Linked DNA regions of Homo sapiens: region 2 is linked to region 1. The links come from fine-mapping of genetic effects on gene expression. A gene starts in region 1. The other region holds a variant in brackets. All regions are shown on one strand. Distances are from middle to middle. Region 1 holds the start of FCGRT (Fc gamma receptor and transporter). Region 2 overlaps FLT3LG (fms related receptor tyrosine kinase 3 ligand).

The links.
Region 2: its variant is fine-mapped to the expression of FCGRT in whole blood (INTERVAL, PIP above 0.99).

Annotation. Positions count from the first base shown.
Region 1 is chr19:49,509,328-49,514,690 of GRCh38, reverse strand. It overlaps FCGRT (Fc gamma receptor and transporter), which reads right to left and starts at 2,030. Exons shown (of 7, transcript NM_001136019.3): 1 at 1,941-2,030; 2 at 1,218-1,304; 3 at 558-809; 4 at 205-480. The coding sequence starts at 1,290. RefSeq lists enhancers at 1-520, 2,448-3,010.
Region 2 is chr19:49,475,546-49,480,908 of GRCh38, reverse strand. FLT3LG (fms related receptor tyrosine kinase 3 ligand) reads right to left here. Exons shown (of 9, transcript NM_001459.4): 3 at 5,108-5,218; 4 at 4,711-4,764; 5 at 4,343-4,486; 6 at 1,862-2,000; 7 at 433-611; 8 at 289-357. The coding sequence ends at 310. Among named protein-coding and RNA genes, the nearest start is that of FLT3LG, 4.0 kb to the right of the region's middle. RefSeq lists an enhancer at 4,738-4,917. The variant G/TG (reference allele first, on the strand shown) is at 2,153.

The DNA of each region.
Region 1 (5,363 bases):
AAGGCAAGGAAGGAAGCCAGGAGTTTGTCCTGGGGGGCGCTGGGGAGCCATGGGAGGGCTGAGTGTAGAAGGACCCCTGAGGAATGGGGGGGCAGAGCGTGGGCTGCAGTGGGAGGCTGATGGAGGGTCCTGGCAGGGGAACTGAGGCAGGTGGGCATGACGGGAGAGAGGACAGAACAGCCTGCGGCTGCAGATCCGGCTCACCCTTCCACTCCAGGTTTCCGCGGCCCCTCTCCAGGTGCTCCCGCAGGCGGTGCGGGCAGGAGAATAGCAGGAAGGTGAGCTCCTTGTTGGCCGCCTTGTCCTGCTGCTGCCACCGCTGACTGATAGCCAGGGCCTCGGGCCAGTCCCCACCCCAGGTGCCCTGCTTGAGGTCGAAATTCATGAACTCCTCGCCGTTCAGGGCGAACTTGGCGGTGGGCACCGAGGTGTTGTCAGGGCCCAGTTCACAGCCCAGCAGGCCCTGCAGAGTGTAGGGACCTGGGGCGCCCAAACACAGGTAAGCGGGGCCCCGGAGCATGGACCCGGCCCCTTGCCCCTCCAGACCGGAATCTCACCTTTTCCCCCCAAAGCTTTGAAAGCTTCCAGAAAGAGCTTCTCCTTGATCCTCAGATCTGTGGTCTCTTTCTCCCAATACCAGGACACCTGGTTTTCCCAGACCCAAGCTCCACAGGGCTCCGCCTCGCCCCGCAGGCTATTGTAGCTCAGGTACTGCTGCGGGCCCAGCCAGCCGGACACCCAGAAGGCAGGAGTCCCCGGGGCAGGCGAGGACACCGCGGTAAGGTGGTACAGGAGGGAGAGGTGGCTTTCTGCAGACAGAAACAGAGCTGAAGGGAGCACACGGGCGGGGAACTAGACTGCAGTGGGACAGATACCCAGGGAGGGAGAAGAATCTATTATGGAGGGAGGGGGACAGATTCAGAGAGAGGGGACAGAAACCCGGGGGGGGGGGGACAGAGACCCAGAGAGAGAGAGACAAGAGACCCAGAAAGAGAGGGGGACAGAGACCCAGAGAGAGAGAGGGAAACAGACACAAGAGGCGACAGGTGGTTCCCAGCCTCAGGCCCAGCAGGAGACGTTGAGAAAGTTAATTGAGCGGAGAAGGCAGCGCCAGGGGCTCGCGGGGAACTCGGGTCCCGCTGGCTTCGCCCCTGCCTGCCTGGGGCCGCCTCCCGCCGCCCGCCTGCAGCAGGGCCCTGGCCCGGAGCGGCCCTCACCTGCGCCCAGGCTCCCAGGAAGGAGAAAGAGCAGGAGCCCCAGCGCCCAGGGCTGAGGCCGCGGGACCCCCATGCTGAGAGGACGACCTGGGGCGGGAGGGGGCACGTGACTCCTCCCGACCCCCGGCCCGCCCCTTCCTCCCGGGACACCGCGGGCACGGCCGGGACCAGGACGCCGAGGAGGGGCTCTGCGGGCTCGGTCCAGACTGACAACAATGCCCTCCTCGTACCTGAAGAACTTTCACCCCTGAACTGGATCTCAGTTGGTTAATTAATTACAGACACTTGATAGGCTGAGAGTCCCGGCCCCGAGCTCCGCCACGCCCCTTCCGCCCCCCTCAGGCCCCAGCCCCTCCTCCCTCAGACCCCGGAGTCCAGGCCCCCAACCGCTCTTCCCTCGGACCCAGGAGTCCGGGCCCCCAACCGCTCTACCCTCGGACCCAGGAGTCCGGGCCCCCAACCGCTCTACCCTCGGACCCAGGAGTCCGGGCCCCCAACCCCTCCTCCCTCGGACCCAGGAGTCCAGGCCCCCCCGGCCCCTCCTCCCTCCTCCCTCAGACCCAGCGTCCAGACCCCCAGTCCCTCCTCTCTCAGACCCAGGAATCCAGGCCCCCACCCCTCCTCCCTCAGACCCAGTGTCGAGACCCCCAGCCACTCCTCCCTCAGACCCAGGGTTCCAGGCCCCCAGCCCCTCCTCCCTCAGTCGGGCCCTGGTCGGCTCACGTTCCCTTCAGCCTCGCTCCCTTCCTGCCTGCGGCCCTGGCCGGCTCCTGGCTCCCGTGACTGGAGACCCCAGTTCCTCTCTCACATCCTGTGGGAGGCTGCTGCTCCCTGACTCCAAGAACATCCAGCCCCACCCCCCAGTTGCAGGGCACACCCCAGGCCCTAGGCCCAGCCTGTTTGTTTCTCAAAACGCTTGTGGTTCTTCTTTTTCCTTCTCTGTGGTTCCCGTTTTTTACTTTGAGGGTGTCTGCCGCTCAGGGAATTCTTGACAAAACTGGGAAAGGAACTCGATGCCTCCGGAGTCCACAACTTGGAGGTCTCTGGATCCTCCTCCTACCCCTCTGTATCCCCGTGGCCTTCCCTAGCGCTCGCTGTTAATCAAAATCTTCTGGAAGCCTCCTTAGTTCCTCCTTCAAGCCCTTCCCCCGGCATCCCCTTAAAAAATTCCTGCAGGTGCTCTTTAATATCCTTCTGCGGGCCGGGCGCAGTGACTCACGCCTGTAATCCCAGCACTTTGGGAGGCCAAGGCGGGCGGATCACGAGGTCAGGAGTTCGAGACCAGCCTGGCCAATATGGTGACACCCCCGTCTCTACTAATAATACAAAAATTAGCTGAGCGTGGTGGTGGGCCTGTGGTCCCAGCTACTCGGGAGGCTGAGACAGGAGAATTGCTTGAACCCGGGAGGTGGAGGTCGCAGTGAGCCGAGATTGCACCACTGCACTCCAGACTGGCAACAGAGCGAGACTCCGTCTCAAAAAAAAAAAAAAACCACATCCTTCTGCTAGGACTTCAGTGACCACATGGTCCCCATACAATGCTGCCTCACTCGAAGGCCCCTCCAGGCACCAGCCCCCGCCCACACTCCTGCTACAAAGCTTCCCATACACTTATTTCATTGTGGTAAAATATTCAAAATATTTACCCTTACTGTCATTTAACACATTTACAGTGCTGTGCAACTGTCACCTCTATCCGAGTTCCAGAGCTTTTTTATCACCCCAAACAGAAGGTCTGTCCCCGTTAAACAGCCGCTGCTCCCAGACCCCTGGCAACCATTCATCTGCTTTCTGTCTTGATAGATTTGCCTATTCTGCACATTTCAAAGAAATTGAATCATATAATATGAAGTCTTTCCTTCCTTCCTTCCTTGCCTCCTTCCTTCCTTCCTTCCTTGCCTCCTTCCTTCCTTGCCTCCTTCCTTCCTTCCTTCCTTCCTTCCTTCCTTCCTTCCTTCCTTCCTTCCTTTCCTTTTTTTTGACAGGGTCTGGCTCTGTCACTCAAGCTAGAATGCCGTGGAGCGATCATGGCTCACTGCAGCCTCAACCTCCCAAGCTCAAGCACTCCACCTGCCTTAGCCTCTCAAGGAGCTGGAATTACACACACTTGCCACCAGGCCCAGCTAATTTTTGTATTTTTGCAGAGATAGTGTCTTGCTATGTTTCCCAGGCTGGTCTCAAACTGCTGGGCTCAAGACAGCCTCCCACCTTGGCCTCCCAAAGCACTGGGATGACAGGTGCAAGACACCCATGCCTGGCCTGTTTTCAGCTCTATTGAGCATACATCTGGGAGTGGAACTGCTGGTCAGGTAGTTCAGGTTCTCTAGAGAAACAGAATCCACAGAATGTGTATATGCATACACAGAAAGAGATTCATTTGAGGAATTGGCTTCCAGGATTAGTGGACGTTCAGCTGGTTCAGAGTCTGATGCGGGGGCCAGGTGTGGTGGTGCATGCCTGTCATCCCAGCACTTTGGGAGGCCAAGTTGGGAGGATCGCTTGAGTCCAGGAGTTTGAGACCAACCTGGCCAACATAGGGAGACCCTGTCTCTATTTTTAAAAAAAATTTCAAAAATGTTGGACGCGGTGGCTCAAGCCTGTAATCCCAGCACTTTGGGAGGCCAAGGCGGGCAGATCACGAGGTCATGGTGAAACCCCATCCCTACTAAAAATATAAAAAAATTAGCGAGGCATGGTGGCAGGCGCCTGTAGTCCCAGTTACTCAGGAGGCTGAGGCAAGAGAATGGCGTGAACCCGGGAGGCGGAGCTTGCAGTGAGCTGAGATCCCGCCACTGCCCTCCAGCCTGGGCGACAGAGCAAGACTCCATCTCAAAAAAAAGAAAGAAAGAAAGAAAGAAACCCCAAAGTCTAATGGGGGAGCCAGCAGGTGGGAGACACAATTGCCTAGCAGGACTCCCTCTCCCTCTGGGCAGACTTTTCTTCTTTTTTTTTTTTTTGAGACGCAGTCTCGCTCTGCCATCAGGCTGGAGCGCAATGGCCCGATCTTGGCTCACTGCAACCTCCGCCTCCCGGGTTCAAGCGATTCTCCTGCCTCAGCCTCCCAAGTAGCTGGGATTACAGGCACCTGCCACCACACCCGGTTAATTTTTGTATTTTTAGTAGAGACGGGGATTTCACCATGTTGGCCAGGATGGCCTCGATCTCTTGACCTCGTGATCTGCCCGCCTCAGCCTTCCAAAGTGCTGGGATTATAGGCGTGAGCCACCGCACCCAGCCGAGACTTTTCTTCTATTCAGGGTTTCAAGTGGTTGGATGAGCCTCCCTCAATTCAGGAAGGGGAACCTCCTTTACTCAAAGCCTAACAATCTAAACATAAATCTCAGCTGGGCACAGTGGCTCATGCCTGTAATCCCAGCACTTTGGTAGGCCAAGGCAGGAGGATCGCTTGAGTTCAAGGACCAGCCTGAGTAACAGAGAGAGCTTATCTCTACAAAAAATTAAAATATTAGCCGGGTGTGGTGGTGCGCACTTGTGGTCCCAGCTACTCAAGAGGCTGAAGCTGGGGGACCCCTTGAGCCCAAGAGTTGGAGGCTGCAGTGAGCCGTGATGGCGCCACTGCACTCCAGCCTGGGCAGCAGCAAGACCCTGTCTCACAAATATATATGTAAATCTCATCCTAAAACACCCTCATAGAGACATCCAGAATAATGTTGACCGAATATCTCTTCACTCACTGTGGCTCAGCCAAATTGACACATAAAATTAACCAGGTAAATCTCTGTTCTCCTTGTCCAGAATGTCTTCATTTTTCTCATTCTGCCTGTGTCCTACTGTGTCCTACCTGATTCTCCCTGTGTCCTACTAGAAGGGAGATCCAGTGACACCCATCCCAAGGTCCACTCCTAAGAGACAGAAAGAACCTGCTTTAACTTCTTCTTTTCTTCTTTTCTTTTCTTTTTTTTATTTTTTGAGACAGAGTCTTGCTCTGTCGCCCAGGCTGGAGGGCAGTGGTGCAGTCTCGGCTCACTGCAAGCTGCGCCTCCCAGGTTCACGCCATTCTCCTGCCTCAGCCTCCCGAGTAACTGGGACTACGTGAGCCTGCCACCACGCCTGGCTAATTTTTATATTTTTAGTAGAGACAGGGTTTCACCGTGTTAGCCAGGATGGTCTCGATCTCCTGACCTC
Region 2 (5,363 bases), 34 kb after region 1:
AGGCACACACCACTATGCCCAGTTAATTTTTGTATTTTTAGTAGAGACTGGGGTTTGCCATGTTGGCCAGGCTGGTCTTGAACTCCTGACCTCAAGTGATCCACCCGCCTCGGCCTCCCAAAGTGCTGGGATTACAGGCGTGAGCCACCGCGCCTGGCCCCAGAGGGGTCTTTCTGCACCTAGAGCTGCCCCTGCCCCTCCACTGCTCACCACCCTTCCATGGCCTCCTAGTGACCCTCCCAACCTGCAGACACAAAGTCCAGGCCCCATAGCCCAGGAAGGACTCACCAGGATGAGGCCTTGGCCAGGTCAGTGCTCCACAAGCAGCAGGTCCTGGGGACTGGGGACGGGGGGCACCTGTGGGCCCCAAAGTGTCAGCCACAAGTGGGCCACCCTCTCGGCCCCCTCACCCCCTCTTCCCAGCCTGCTCACCTGCTCCCCAGGGCGGGGTGTCCTCCGCCGCGTCCTCTGCCAGTGCAGGCACCAGGCAGCGGCCAGCAGCAGGAGGCCCACGGGCAGCAGCAGTAGGAGGAGCAGAGGGGGCTGCGGGGCTGTCGGGGCTGTGGCCTCCAGGGGCCGGGGACTCCATGGGGGTGGCAGGGTTGAGGAGTCTGGGGAGAAAGAGGAGGCTGGGTGACCAAGGAGAAGGGCTGGGGTAAGGAAGGAAAGAGAGGCCTGGCTGCCACTGGCTGTGTGACCTTGGATGGGCTGCTTGGCCTCTCTGTGCCTCAGTTTGCTCATCTGTAAAACTAGGATAATCATTGTACCTACCTCATCAGACTGTCACAAATTAAATGAGTGAATAGGCTGAGCGCGGTGGCTCACGCCTATAATCCCAGCACTTTGGGAGGCCAAGGTGGGTGGATCACTTGAGGTCAGGAGTTCAAGACCAGCCTGGCCAACATGGTGAAAACCCATCTCTACTAAAAACACAAAAACTAGCCAGGCATGGTATGCGCATCTGTAATCCCAGGTACTCGGAAGGCTGAGGCAGAAGATTCGCTTGAACCCTGGAGATGGAGGTTGCAGTGAGCCAAGATTGCGCCACTGCACTCCAGCCTGGGCGACAGAGCAAGACTCCGACTTAGAAAAAAAAAACAATAGGCTGGGCGCGGTGGCTCACATCTGTAATCCTAGCACTTTGGGAGGCCGAGGCGGGCAGATCACGAGGTCAGGAGATCGAGACCATCCTGGCTGACACGGTGAAACACCGTCTCTACTAAAAATACAAAAAAAAAAATTAGCCGCGTGAGGTGGCAGGCGCCTGTAGTCCCAGCTGCTGGGGAGGCTGAGGCAAGAGAATGGCGTGAACCCAGGAGGCAGAGCTTGCAGTGAGCCGAGATAGCACCCCTGCACTCCAGCCTGGGGGACAGAGCAAGACTCCATCTCAAAAAAAAAAAAAAAAAAAAAGGTAGGCTGGGCACTGTGGCTCACGCCTGTAATCCCAGCACTTTGGGAGGCCAAGGCAGGTGGATCACAAGGTCAGGAGATCGAGACCATCCTGGTTTAACTCGGTAAAACCCCGTCTCTACTAAAAATACAAAAAATTAGCCGGGTGTGGTGGCGGGCGCCTGTGGTCCCAGCTACTTGGGAGGCTGAGGCAGGAGAATGGCATGAACCCGAGAGGCGGAGCTTGCAGTGAGCCAAGATCACGCCACTGCACTCCAGCCTGGGCGACAGTGCGAGACTCCGTCTCAAAAAAAAAAAAAAAAAATTGGTAAACTGAGCTCCAGAAAGAGGAATAAGCTTGCCCTTGTCACAACCAATATGAGAAAGATGGGGTCTGGGATGCACTGTGCAGAGAGGAGGAGCGGCCGTGAGGACAGGAGGGGAAGGAGTGGGGGTGCCTGGAAGCCTTTACCGGGCTGACACTGCAGCTCCAGGCACCGGGAGAAGTTCTGGCGAGTGATCCAGGGCTTCAGCGCCACCAGCTGCTCGGAGGTCTCCTGCAGGAGGCGGGAGATGTTGGTCTGGACGAAGCGAAGACAGCTGGGGGGGGGCTGGGAGCAGGGGAGGGAGACGTCACCACCACGTCATCCCCCCACCGCCCCTCCGCAGGCCAAAGGCCCTTCCCTGCTGGCGATGCCCAGCAACAGGGCCCAGTGAGCTCTGGCTCTCAGAGTTTATTTATTTAATTAATTAATTTTTTTTT[G/TG]AGATAGAGTCTCACTCTGTTGCCCAGGCTGGAGTGGTGAAATGCAACCTCTGCCTCCCAGGTTCAAGTGATTCTCCTGCCTCAGCCTCCTCAGTGGTTGGGACTATAGGTGCCCACCACCATGCCCAGCTATTTTTTGTATTTGTAGTAGAGACGGGGTTTCTCCATGTTGGCCAGGCTGGTCTCGAACTCCTGACCTCAGGTGATCTGCCCACCTTGGCCTCCCAAAGTGCTGGGATTGTAGGCATGAGCCACCGTGCTTGGCCATATTTATTTATTTATTTATTTTTAAGACAGAGTCTCGCTCTGTTGCCCAGGCTGGAGTACAGTGGCGCAATCTCGGCTCACTGCAAGCTCCGCCTCCTGGTTTCACGCCATTCACCTGCCTCAGCCTCCCAGGTAGTTGGGACTACAGGCGCCTGCCACCACGCCCGGCTAATTGTTTGTATTTTTAGTAGAGATGGGGTTTCATTGTGTTAGCCAGGATGGTCTTGATCTCCTGACCTTGTGATCCGCCCGCCTCGGCCTCCCAAAGTGTGGGATTACAGGCGTGAGCCACCGTGCCCAGCCTATTTATTTATTTATTTATTTATTTATATTTTTTAGTAGAAACGGGGTTTCTCTATGTTGGCCAGGCTGGTCTCGAACTCCTGACCTCAGGTGACTCGCCCGCCTCGGCCTCCCAAAGTTACTTTATTATTTATTTATTTTTTGGGGACAGAGTCTTGCTCTGTCACCCTGGCTGGAGTACAGTGGCACGATCTCGGCTTACTGCAACTTCTACCTCCCGGGTTCAAGGAATTCTGCCTCAGCCTCCTGAGTAGCTGGGACTACAGGCGCGCGCCACCATGCCCAGCTAATTTTTGTATTTTTAGTAGAGACGGGGTTTCACCACATTGGCCAGGGTGGTCTCAAACTCCTGACCTCGTGATCTGCCCGCCTCGGGCTCCCAAAGTGCTGGGATTACAGGCGTGAGCCACTGTACCCAGGCTTTTATTTTATTTTTATTTTTTTGGAGATGGAGTCTTGCTCTGTCGCCCAGGCTGGAGGGCAGTGGTGTGATCTCGGCTCACTGCAACCTCTGCCTCCTGGGTTCAAGCAATTCTCCTGCCTCAGTCTCCCAAGTAGCTGGGACTACAGGTGCCCACCACCATGCCTGGCTAATTTTGTTTTTGTATTTTAGTAGAGATGGTTTTCATCACGTTGCCGAGGCTGGTCTCGAACTCCTGAGCTCAGGCAATCCACCCGCCTCAGCCTCCCAAAGTGCTGGGATTACAGTCGTGAGCCACCATACACGGCCTATTCTATGTTTTGAGACAGGGTCTTGCTCTGTCGCTCAAGCTGGAGTGCAGTGGCCCAATCATAGCTCATCGCAGCCTCGACCTCCAGGGCTCAAGTGATCCTCCCACCTCAGCCTTCTGAGTAGCTGGGACCACAGGTGGGCACCACCATGCCTGGCTAATTTATTTTTATTTTTGTGCAGAGATGAGGTTTCACTGTGTTACCCGGGCTGGTCTTGAACTCCTGGGCTCAAATAATCCTCCCACCTTGGCCTCCGAAAGTGCTGGGATTACAGGTGTGAGCCACTGCACCCAGCCCTCAGAGAGAGGTTTTTGTTTGTTTGTTTTGTTTTTGAGACAGTTTCACTCTGTCTCCCAGGCTGGAGTGCAGTGGCATGATCTCGGCTCACTGCAGCCTCTGGCTCCCGGGTTCAAGCGATTCCTGTGCCTCAGCCTCCTGAGCCACCATGCCCGGCTAATTTTTGTATTTTTAGTACAGCCGGGATTTCATCATGTTGGCCAGGCTGGTCTCAAACTCCTGACCTCAAGTGATCCGCCCACCTCAGCCTCCCAAAGTGCTAGGATTACAGGAGTGAGCCACCACGCCCGGCCTCCTCAGTTTAGAGACCCCTTCTCTCCCTGTTTTTTTTTGGGGGAAGAACCCCTCAGTGGCACCCTTCATCATGGCCTAGGAAACCGGGGCCCCAGAATGGGACCAGACTGCTCCCCATCACCGGTGCCTGGGGACGTGTTGTTCTGTAGGAACAGGGCTCTGCAGGGTGGCGCTTCTCGCTCTACCTTCGTTGGGTGGCTATGGTCCAAATCGCCAATAAGGCCTAGTGGAGCTTTACTTCTAATTCGTAGGAAGGCATCTCCCTCCCCTCACTTGTCCCCTAAGTTGAGGGCTGACCTGAAAGGCACATTTGGTGACAAAGTGTATCTCCGTGTTCACGCGCTCCAGCAAGCCTTGCATCTTGGACCCAGCGACAGTCTTGAGCCGCTCCATCCAGCGCTGTGCCAGGACCAGCCGCCAGAGGCCCCCGCAGAGCTCCTCCTAGAGGGGAGAACCCACGGGTCTGAGGGAGGAGCTGGGCACGGGGCTGCTGGGTCTGAGGGAGGAGGGGCTGGGCCGGGGCTCCTGGGTCTGAGGGAGGAGGGGCTGAGGACTCTGATTCCTGGGTTTGGGGAGGGGAGGGCCTGGTTATCCACTCGCCTCGGTGGAGCATCTTGAGTCTGTGGTCCCCACCTCCATCCCAGGTCCCTCCCAACATGACTTACGTCCTGCAGGTTGGAGGCCACGGTGACTGGGTAATCTTGAAGCAGGTAGTCAGACTGCGGGAGAAAACAGGATCAGGCCTGGCTGAAAACAGCGAGAAACAGAACTGTGGGGACCCAGAGGTGGCAGCAGAGATCCAGAGAGAGAGGGACAAGACCAAGAGAGGGGGAGCCCAGAAGAAGCCACAGAACCTTGCCCTTAAAAAGGGATGACACCCCTAAGCACAGTGGCTCACGCCTGTAATTCCAGCACTTTGGGAGGCCAAGGTGGGAGGATCGCTTGAGCCCAGGAGTTCAAGACCACCCTGGGAAACACAGGGAGAGAGACCCCATCTCTACTTAAAAAAAAAAGTGGGGGGAAGGGGGATCACATGAGGGGGTCCGGGGCAGCGCCGCTCACCAGCTCACGGATTTTGACAGCGAAGTCGGAGGAGATGGGGCTGTGTTGGAAGGAGCAGTCCTGGGTCCCACTGAGTCCCGAGCTCAGCAGCAGCAGCAGGAGGAGATAGGTCTGCAGGGGAGCGGGTGCTGGGGGAGCCCTCTGCTGTTCCACACACAGCCCCCTCCTCCGGGCTTCCCACCTGTACTGTTCTGTCTTCCCCGCTCCTCCTTCCCTGGGTGTCCTTCTGCCTCTTCCACACTTTCTGGAGACATGG